Homo sapiens: one gene and its partners. The protein of the gene in region 3 purifies or fractionates together with the protein of the main gene of each other region. This does not show direct contact. Each region holds a gene or a part of one and is shown on either strand. Other genes may lie near its edges.

Evidence for each region.
Region 1: the proteins of SRPX2 (region 3) and C1QTNF9 purify together in Homo sapiens (co-immunoprecipitation; one large-scale study listed by IntAct). This does not show direct contact.
Region 2: the proteins of SRPX2 (region 3) and NOTCH2 purify together in Homo sapiens (co-immunoprecipitation; one large-scale study listed by IntAct). This does not show direct contact.

What each region holds. Positions count from the first base shown.
Region 1 is NC_000013.11:24,315,932-24,319,585, reverse strand, and holds part of C1QTNF9 (complement C1q and tumor necrosis factor-related protein 9A precursor), read right to left. Parts: intron 3,605-3,654; 5' UTR 3,583-3,604; coding exon 3,417-3,582; intron 769-3,416; coding exon 706-768; intron 1-705. UniProt on the Homo sapiens protein: Probable adipokine. Activates AMPK, AKT, and p44/42 MAPK signaling pathways.
Region 2 is NC_000001.11:120,063,012-120,066,665, reverse strand, and holds part of NOTCH2 (neurogenic locus notch homolog protein 2 isoform 1 preproprotein), read left to right. Parts: intron 1-3,654. UniProt on the Homo sapiens protein: Functions as a receptor for membrane-bound ligands Jagged-1 (JAG1), Jagged-2 (JAG2) and Delta-1 (DLL1) to regulate cell-fate determination.
Region 3 is NC_000023.11:100,650,699-100,654,352, forward strand, and holds part of SRPX2 (sushi repeat-containing protein SRPX2 precursor), read left to right. Parts: intron 1-86; coding exon 87-167; intron 168-3,654. UniProt on the Homo sapiens protein: Acts as a ligand for the urokinase plasminogen activator surface receptor. Plays a role in angiogenesis by inducing endothelial cell migration and the formation of vascular network (cords). Involved in cellular migration and adhesion.

The DNA of each region.
Region 1 (3,654 bases), on a different chromosome or scaffold from region 3:
TTGTTTTTCTGGGTTTTGTTTGTCTGCTTGTTTTTTTGTTGCTTTGAGACAGGGTCACCCACTCTGTTACCCAGGCTGGAGTGCAGTGACGAGATCATGGCTCATGGCAGCCCCAACCTCCCAGGCTCAAGCGATCCTCCCACCTCAGCCTCCTGGGTAGCTGGGACTACAGGCACGTGCCACAATGCCCAGCTAATTTTTTTTTTATTTGTATAGACAAAGTCTTACTATGTTGCCCAGGGTGGTCTGGAACTCCTAGGTTCAAGCGATTCTCTTACCTGGGCCTCCCAAAGTGTTGGGATTACAGGTGTGGGCCATGGTGCTCGGCCATGGTTTGCATGTTTAAATGGTCACAAATAATATTCCACAATACATGGAAACCATGGGAAATTCCCATTTCAGTCTTCACACATATGGTGTCACTGGAACAGAGCCATGCTTATTTATGGAGCATCTACAGCTTCTTTTCACTACAAGGGGAAGTTGAGTAGTGGTGACAGATCTGTATGGCCTGCGGAGTTGAGAATATTTACTACCCAGCCCTCTGCAAAGCCTGCCAATCCCTGCAGAATCCCCCCGTCTGGAGAGTAAGAACTGTGTTGCCTTTATTGTAAGATTATAATCAGCATGGAGGACTTGTCCATGGTAATATTGTTAAATAGTCGACAGCTCAGAATTAGAGCACCATAAATAGGAACTACTAACCTCGTTCTCCCTTCTCTCCACTCGTCCCATCCTTCCCCGGGCTGCCAGGACGTCCTGGTTCTCCTAGGTGGAAAAGCAGAAAACAGGCATGAGTTGAAATTCCATTTCTGATTTTTCTGGCCATTGGTCTCCATCAGCCATGTGTGTTGGAGAGTCTGGGGGTGACCCCCGCCCTGACGGGCACTCTGTCCTCCACACAAGCGCAGGTGGAGAGAGGCAGGCATGAGCGGGCATCTGGGGTGCTGAGCTGCGTGGGATAAGTGACCTAAGAAATGAACTGAGTGACTTCCCAAGCGCCCATCTCTAGGACGTGCCTAGAGCGCACAGCAAGACAGGACGAAGAGGGAGTGTGTGCAATGGGGACTGACTGTCACGATTGTGTTCCTCTCCTGCGACAAGGACTTGGGACGTGGTCTGAATGTTGGAGGTGCCAGGAGGTTTCCTCACTCTGTTTCTCTTCCATTACTCTTGAGGAGAGTGGAACGGAAGATTTACTAGGCTCCTATGAAAACACAGATGACTATGGTTACGTGACACTATCCCAAGATAGAAGAGAGAGTTCTGGAAGGATCCCTCTAGTGCCTTACACTGGGGGAAATGCCACCAATCAAGCTGGCAGAGAACATCAGGTGAGTGGGGCTCTGCTGACTACACTCAAGTCCTTGTGCTCAGAACAGGCCCCCCTGAGCTCCAGGTCGGCGTGCTATCCGTCAGCAGGTTGAAGGTGGCTCTGGCTATGGCAGTAGAGTGCTCATTGGGCCACAGCTCACCCCAGACTCTGGCTTCTCACAAAGCAGCAGAGACTCCCATACTTCAGACCCACTGACGTGGCTGTGGGGCGACAGGGGCAGGCTGGGCCGGCTTGCAGGTCCTGAGACAGGACTGACACAGGCAGACTTATTTCTGTCACGATGTCTGTTCTCCTGGGACACCAGCGCTCCTGAGTGGGGCCTTGGTCAGCGTGGGACCTCTGAATGGAGGGGGCTTATCCCTACATTTGCCCCTCCCTGCGCTCCCCTCCCCTCCCCTCCCCTCCACTGGCTGCTCCCCTGTGTCTTCCTCTCCTTCCCTCTTTTTGTTTCCCTGCTTGGCTCTCGTTTCTCCCATTCTCTAGAGCGGTGGCCTCTGAGCTTTCATGATCACGCAACCACAACTCACAAAGCATGAACACAGACCCCAATCAGTAGATATTTATATGTTTCTACATTATGCACAGGTAGTATATGGAAAATATGTTTGGTATAAAACATATACAAAAATACACTTTAAGATAAGATAAAAATGAAGTAAATTTTTAGTGTGAGCAATGTGAATGAATATCCTTCTAAGAAGTAATATATATTATATATAATACCTATGAACTACGTAGAAAAATAGATACATAATTTGCTTCTAAGAAGTATATAAAACTTGAAAGAATGGACACTGGTGAGAAAAGAGGAGAGAAATTCAACAGGGAAGAGGTAGAGAAATTTGGTATTGAATATAGGAGTGTTTGTCTTTGTCCTCTATTTTTTATCTATCACCTATTTATCTCCTTTTGTGTGTAAAATTTTATAACAAAAAATGAAAATCTTATATATTCAGAAATACAATACACACACACACACACACACACACACACACTACTGTGGTCCCAGTGTGAGGGCAGAAGACCTGATTTCATTAATGGTAAGGTTTTGCTATTCATTTGGACTGGGCTGTTTGCTACCTGGGGACTGGAACAGTGTCAATGAGCTGGAGATGTGAGCCAGGAGAAGACACCTCACAGAGCAGATGTGCAGGATGGTGGTTAGAAAGAATGTTGCTTCCTGGTGACCCTTGGCTTCATCCAGCCCACTCAAAACATCATCAGGCCACCAAATGCCATAAGCTGAGATGTGTTAGAAACACAAACTTATCTTTAAAAAGGTCCATAGAAGTTTTGATATATTTTTTTGTAATGCCACTGAACTGTGCCCTTAACCCAGATGGATCATTCTGCATATGCCTTAGATATGTGACCCTATGGTCAAGACCAGGCCTCAAGAATGGTACCCCATTCGGAAACCAAGTCTATTGGTTGTTGTTATGGAAACCACTCGGACTTCTCAGCTTTGGCAAATCTCCCTCCCAGAGGCTGAATCCTGTCCCCCAGATCCCCAGACCCTGGGACAGGGTCCCAACCTAGGTCATATAGATGCATAAGCAGCAGCTGTATGGTTTCAGATTCTCGTCTCCTTTTGTGTCATCTGTCACTCCGCATCTCCTGCTTCATGGCATGATGCGGTATTAGCTCTCACCTGCACTGCAGCTGGGTGCTTGCTGCCAAATAATTCGTGATCAGATCTCTCTATTAGCCTTTTGTTGCCAAAAATCCATCATACCTGTCACCTGAGATGGGAGGATCCATGACATCGTATACTACTGAAAATGTTCTGCGGTGTCAGAGATGAGAGAACCCAGGAGGGCAGGGGTCATGGCGATCTTGCCCTGTGCTCTCCACCAGCACCTGGCACAGAGTCTGGCATGGAGCAGACCCCGTGAGTGTTGCTGGGCAGATGGGTGGATGGATGAATGGGGTCAGGCTCCAGTGAGTGTTGCTGGGTTGATGTATGTATGGATGGATGGGGTGTGAGTGGGTAGGTGGAAAATCACACAGATGATGAGTGAATGAGATGAAAGGAATGAAGAGAGAAGTTGAAAGGCAGCCGAAGCCGTCAGGTGAGTACCTGCATCGCCTTTGTCACCCTTCGCTCCGTCTCGTCCATCTCTTCCAGGCAGACCATTGTGACCGGGGTTCCCAGGGATTCCAGGGTGCCCTTGCCTGCAGGTGTCCTGTGAGTTTATGTTCCCTGTGCAGATTTCAATGGCAAGCAGAAGCCACCAGATCCTCATGGTTCAGATGACAGACTCTGAACTGAAAGAGGGAAACAGAAACCCAAAGGAGAAATCTTTGTTGCTGGGGCC
Region 2 (3,654 bases), on a different chromosome or scaffold from region 3:
TTTTGGTTCACCTGGATTGTAGTTGCTGACTTCAGGACCTTTAGAGAATGTTTAAATTCAGTGGGATATGCTTGGATGGTTCAGAGCAGCCTTACAATACATCTTAAAAATATCACACCCACAGAAATTCTATTTTGCCCACAAAATTTGCATTGATCTAGTTCCCACTCTGTGTTGCCATTCCTAGTGATCCTCCTCCCTACCTCTCCCATTATGGTAGAAAAAACTCTGTGTCCTGGCTACATCAAAATCTGTTGGGGTGGATCTTGGACTCAGCACCCAGGGATTCTGATAAGGTAAGTTTGAGAATCCATATTTTTTCAAGGTTTACAGGTGATTCTGACAAGTAACTTGGTTGCAACCCACTGATTAAGTACATTTTTTTTTACCTTCAGGTGTGTGTATGAGGTCTTTCTAAATTTAAGAAATTTCCATAACAAATGTAACCTTAGTCATTCCAGTGTTTAACGCTTCTGACTCAAGGAATTTAAAAATTGCTAACGTAAGAGATATAGAATATAATGTCATTTCTTCTATTTATCTGGGTGCAATATGTCTGCATTGACCCTTTAGAAGGGCTTCATATATTTAGATGATATAATAAATTCTCCACCTCTCCTTTTCCCTTTTCTTCTGTTATCTCTTTTTCCTTAAATGTCATTCATACATGTTGTTTTTTGACCCTTTATCTATATACGTCTGCAATGATTTTAGAGTAAAAAACTGCAAGGCGTGATTTGAATAAGGATATAAGAAATTTTACATCATTTTCTTTATATTGTGTTCACAGTCCATAGTTACATGCTTCCTTTCTTGATGTCTCAGTTCGAATGCCTAAATTTGAACTATTGATTTTCCTTCCACCCTTTCCTGATTTTCCTGTTTTTGTTTCTCCCCCTTTCTCTGCAAATGACTTGAAACCAAAAGGTCTTCTTTTCTTTCTTTGTCAGCCTACCGTATGTGTAGTATTTTGGACAGATCACTGAACTAGGAGCCAGAAGACCAGAATTCTTCTCCAGGTCTGTTATTAATTGGTTTGGTGACCTTGTAGGAGAGCCACTGTTTCCGTCCTCCATTTTCTGATGTTCATTGTTCATGGTCACAGAGCCAATTAGAGTTGAGACTAGAATTCCTTTCTTCTGGTGTCCAGTGCCTCATTCACTGTCCTCATTGCTTCCATCTCGTGTACAAATGCGCTTATGTGCACAAAAACTCTTATAACATCCTCAAGTGCTTATTGTTAATGCGTACATGAGGAAGGAATCGTGTATTTTCATTTATGTGTTTATTCTAATGCCCATACCCTACCCCTGTACCTGGCATGATGCCTTGGTATCTAATAGGCACACAATAAATACTTGTTCAGTCGAACAATTATTTTTAGCCATTTTCTTATTTTGGACAACTGTGGTACTCCTAGACATTTTAAAAACAGTATTTGCAGGAGTCATGCTTACCTTACATTTGGGGAAAAACCAAATTTTTCCCTTCCCCAGATGTTTCATTTTAACTTGTAATTTTGAATTTCTTTGTGTGTGGGGTTTCTTTCTTTCTTTTTCTGATCACTTCTGCAATTTATAAAGGTCACTTTGACTTTGGAATCTCACTTCAAAGGCACTGCCATCCACCCCCTGCCTCTCACTCAAGTTTGCTTCCACTGCTTCCTGTATTACTGTATTACTAGGCCAGCAATTTCTGTTATTTTGTCCAGAATAGCCACACCTTATTGTAATTTCATCATTTTGGGGACTAGTCATTTTTGGAATACTATTTTTAAAATTAGAGTTAACTAAGTTTATATTTATTTTGATAATTTTTTTTGAGATTTTTTTCATTGAGTTGGATATTGCAAACTTGTACTGGATTGAGAGAATATGTACATTTAGTAAAGTATATTTGCTTTTTTTTTTTTTTGAACCAAGAGAGTCCCCTGAACACCCTACTGACAAAAACTAAAGATGAAATATGATGAATAAATATTTGAGAGAATCACATGGTGTTGAGTTGTCTCTGCCACATGATTTTGATCCTTGAGGGCCAGGTCTGTGCTACACACATTTCTTCTCTGTACTACAGAACTTGTCTGGCATGTGCCCCAAATTCAGAGTCAACTGAGCAGCAGGTCTTAGTCACAGCATCTATGACTCCTGCTTTCCCACCTTTAGAACATTCTATAGGAGAGGCTGATGGTGAGTTGGAGTGTGTTTCTATGTTCTTTTTTCCTTTGAAGAGATAGGATCAGTTGAAAGCTGACCCCACCCACAGACTTTTTTTGCTATCTCTTTTAATTAATTAAGGAGTGGCTGAAATTTTCCTCTTTGTTGACTTATGCATTGGCGGGAACTTTAAAATTCATCTAGTCTTTCTGTCCATCCCATGCTGGATCTGATGTTTACAACATTCTAGTCAAGAGGTACCATATTTTCTCTCTTCTTGAACATCTCTTGTGGTAGACAGCTCTCCACAGCAGTTTATTCCATCTTTGGCCAGCTCTAATTCTTAGAAAGATCTTCTTATATTCAGCTGTAATCCGTCTCCTCATGACTTGTCCTCATTGACATCTACTCAGAAATTTGTCTCAGAGTCCTGAGACCTGTGCAGGTGATAGGGACCCAAAGAGATGCTTGTCTGTAGACTTTACTGAGCTGACACCCAGCTCTCCATAAAAGGAGTCAAACCCAGTGAGGAGCATGTCTGAGGTGATTGCTCAGGTAAAGCATCTTAGCCCTACTTGTTTCATACCTCCCTGCACAGGTGGGCACTGGTGGGAGAATAACATTTATCAAGCAGTGTTTCCCTAACCTCTCTTATGATAAGAATAGCTCAGGTGTTCTCATGGAGATTCTGATTCAGTGCATCTGGAGTGTCATCTGGGAATTTGTGTGTTCAAGAAATAGCCAGGTGATTCTTACATTAGGAAAGTTTTAGAATCACTGCAGAGTGAATCTGGGAAATCAAAGTGTTTTTGTTTGTTTGTTTTTTGAGAGTATTAGAGACAGGTTGCTTTGGCTAGATCCTGTGGTCATTTTTCCCCCTTGGAAATGCCTCCTACTTGCTGGCCTCACTTAGTACAGAGAAGAAAGCTGCTATGGTATAAGGTTAGTAAAGTTGTTTTGTCTTAAAAGAAATTTGCGAAATCCAGCATTTTCAGACTTCTGTTTGTGTTGTATGACTTTGTTGTAAGCCTCCTTATTCCTCCATTAGAATGTTACCTGAGATGTTAGAATGCATAGGAGTTCCACAGCCTTTTTGGTGTCCACTAAAGAATTCTGTCCTCAGCCGTTGCAAATGGTGCTTCCTTTGAGGATTTCTGCTTCATTAGCTCATGAACACATATTTGGTGTCGGCAGTTTCCCTCAGATGTGTTAGTGTGGAGAGATATAAAGGTCACTCATTTCTGGCAGTCCTGCTTTTGGGGTTTCTGGGCTGCTGCAGCAAATGAAATAAGGAAAGGAAAATAAAGGAGGAATCTAGGGCTTCTTGAGCAGAACAAAACAATCTGCAAGAAGGGGCACAGGATTGCTCCTCTCACAAAGACACTTGATAATACTGTCCTTGATAGGAAGAAGGAAGTGGCTTCAGATCTGAAAGGATATGCTCATAGGCTTGAGACGGGACAAACTGCATCACTGGTAGTGGTAGGAGGTTTGCCGT
Region 3 (3,654 bases):
GACAAAGTTGGATGAGAGGGGGAAGGTTGGGAAGGAATTGAGTGAGAAATCAAGACACCATTTTGATATTGTCTTCCTTATTCTAGGTTCTGGCTACTATCCGGATGAAAGCTACAATGAAGTATATGCAGAGGAGGTCCCACAGGCTCCTGCCCTGGACTACCGAGGTAATCTACCCTGCTTCTCAAGCCCAGAAAATCTCTTTTCTGGCCTCAGACCTAGGCCCTTCCCTGAAGCATCCCCATCAGGCTTGGCTCACATGTGTCAAAACTGTAGCACAGGGAATCAGGGGCTGTGATTTCTCATCATGAACTTGGTTACTGACTTACTGTGTGACCTCACCTCTCCAGCCTGAAGGTTCTCCATGTATTATTAATCATTAAGTATTGACTAGTTACTCAATGCCTAATCCTGTGCAAGGTAAGCCTGTGGGTAATACAAGGTCTCAGATAGGGTTTTGTCCCCATCATGTAGCTTATATTCTGTTGGGGGTGATGGGGGGGTATAAAGTTAGCACATGTAGGGCAAGTAAGTGTGAAGCTATGTCATAGCAGTAAATGCAATAGGGTTTAAGAAAAAGAAGTCAGGAAAAGGGTCATGAAAGATGACATTTAGGCTAAGCTTAGAATGATAGGTGGGATTTTGAGAACCAGAAAGGGGAGGGGAGAGCATTCAGCAAAGCAGATGGCTAAAAATACGGAAGTAAGAACAAACCTGGTAGAGGAGGGAGCTAAGAAGAAACCAGCCTGATTGGAGGAAATGGAATATGGAGGGAGTAGTATCAAAGAAGGTTAAATATAGGCCAAGTGCAGTGGCTCATGCTTGTAAACCCAGCATTTTGGGAGGCCGAGATAGGTGGATCACTTGAGGTCAGGAGTTCGAGACCAGCCTGGCGAATATGGTGAAACCTCATCTCCAACAAAACTACAAAAAATTAGCCAGGCATGGTGGCATGTGCCTATAATCCCAGCTACTCAGGTGGCTGAAGCAGGAGAATCACTTGAACCTGGGAGGTGGAGGTTGCAGTGAGCCGAGAGCTGAGATGGCACCACTGCTCTCCAGCCTGGGTGACAAAGCAAGGCTCTGTCTCAAAAAAAAAAAAAAAAAAAAGTTAAATATAAAGAGTGAGACCAAATTAGGAAAGACTCCATGATCTAGGGACAATACTAATGAGAAGCATGAAAATTATCTGTGATGAATGCTGCATAGTGAGTAATTCCTGCATTAAAAGGGAAGTTAGGCCAGGTGGTATCTAATATCCCTTCTATTTCTGATTCTTTGTTTCTTTGCTTTGCAAGCCATGTGGAAGAGTTTAGCTGTTGTACTAGGATCTATAGGGAGCCCATCACATGTTTTTGCACAGAGGCATGACACAGTAAATTGTCATTTTAGAACATTAACCTGATTATTCTATGCAGAAATAGGGGTTCAGTGGTTAAGTCTGAGTCAGGGAGACTCTCCAGGAACCAGCTACAGTAATGTTGGCTAGAGATGACTGATGGTGGTGGCAAAGAAATGGAGGGTACAGATGAACCCCATAAATGTTTCAAAGAAAGAGATGACAAGACTTAGTACAGACTTGATGTACCAAGAGGCTAAGAAACAAACTGATGTCTGAAAGCACTCAGTCTGTACACCTGGAAGAAATAAGACCCCTCTCAGAAAGACAATGTCAAAAAAGAAAACTGGTTTGGTAAAGATGCCCTACAGGCGGCGGAAGGATGAAGTTGTGTGAGTCATCAGCTTAGATAGATGGGTTGTCTGAGGGAGCAGAAGGCCAGGGTCAGAGCTTTAGAAGACATCTGTAGACATGAGTAGGAGAAGAGGAACCAGCAAGGGGAAAAAAAGAGAATTAGTGGTCAGTCATGTAGGAAGATATCTGGGCAGTACCTGTCATATTACAGAAGCCACAGGAGAAGAGAGTTTTAAGGAAAGGAAGGGGTAAGAGATAAATTGTGTCAAATATTGCAAAGAAATCAAATTGAGGGTAAAGGAAAGATGTTATCTGGCAAGAAGGAGGTAAATGGTGACCTTTAAGAAAAATAGTTTCAACTGAGAAATTCTCAGAGCTTTGAGCTCCTCTGAGCATCTTTGTAGCTACCTTCTACGCACGTTCTTCTCCCTGCCAAATGGTGCATACCCACTGCCTCTCTCCTCAGCACCCACTAACTCCTAAACTCTCTACAGTCTGTTTCTCGCCCACTCACAAATCTACAACCTGAAATGACATCTCTTGAAGAAAAAAGTTCTCTCCCATGAGAGAACCAATTCCCATGACCCTTTCTTGAGCTTGTCTCTCAGTCTCTCCAGCAGCAGTGAGCACCTTCCTTTCTTCTTAATCCCCCTTCCTTGGTCTCCATGGCATTTCACAATTCTGGTCAGAGCTGAAACTGGGAAAGGAGGTGGACTCTCTGGTGGTGACAATAGAGAGAATGAGACTGGGATCTGAACTTGGGTCAACCCTGACCTGTCTCCTGAGCTGGTGGACTACATCTCCAACTGCTGCTACACACTTCCATTTGGAGATATCTAAAACAAAAGTATTTCCTCTCTCCTGAAAAATGTTCTACCTACTGACCTTCCTACTTCTGATAACACTACCATCATTCTCTTAGTTACTCGGACTTCAAAATACCTCAATGTCACCTCTAATAGGTCCTGTCACCTTTAACAGCCCCCTTTTCCTCATCACTTCCTGCCAGTCAGTCACCAAGACCTGTCATTTCTTTATTAATCCATGGGATTAAAACTTTGACCTCACACATGGATAATACAGTTGCCTCTAACTGGATTATCTGACTCATGTTTCCCCCTCCCCCAAACCTACTGGCCCACAATGACCATTTTAAATCAGAATCTGGCCTTGGTCTAGCTTCCCAGACTGACAACTTCCTACCTGTTCTCCCCACATGAAATCTGTGCTTTGGTCAGGCTGTGTTCAGTACTGTGTTCCCAACTGCTTTAGCCCACACTGAGCTTTCTCTCGCCCATTTATTCTTTCATCGAATATTTATTGAATACTTATTAGGTACCTCTTCTGAAATAAATGTTTACTGTCTAGACACACTCATTTGGCCTTCATTATGCACTGCCTCTTTGGTTAACTTTTTATTACCCTCAAGAAAATAGTTCTGTATTTAACTGTATTTAGCTATATTTCTGTATTTGACTGTATTTAACTGTATTTGTGTATTTAACTGTTTTTAACTGTATTTAACTGTTTTAACTGTATTCCTGTATTTAACTGTTTTTAACTGTATTTGTGTATTTAACTGTATTTAAGGAATCATGTGTGTTACTCTCACAGAGCCATGGTAAAAAGTAGATGCTGACCACTAGCATCCTGGGAGCAGAAGCCAGATTATGGGAGACTATAGTTTGGAGAGGTGGCTAGTAAAAAGCAACAGATGCAGAAGGTACTTTCATGGAGTCTGCAGCCCTATTATTAACATTAACCTTCTTCACTGGTTCTTCTTAAATGAGCAGAAAGCCCTTTAGAGAAATACAAGCTGCATAAGGGCCTTTGGTTTGGAGGTGTAGTGTCTCATAGCTCTTTTTAGGACTTAGTCTCAGGGCATAAAATGAATTGAGTGAAGTTAGCAATGATGAGGGGGAGGGAGTGGCCAGGAAAAGTACAACCTGAGGCCCCAGCCT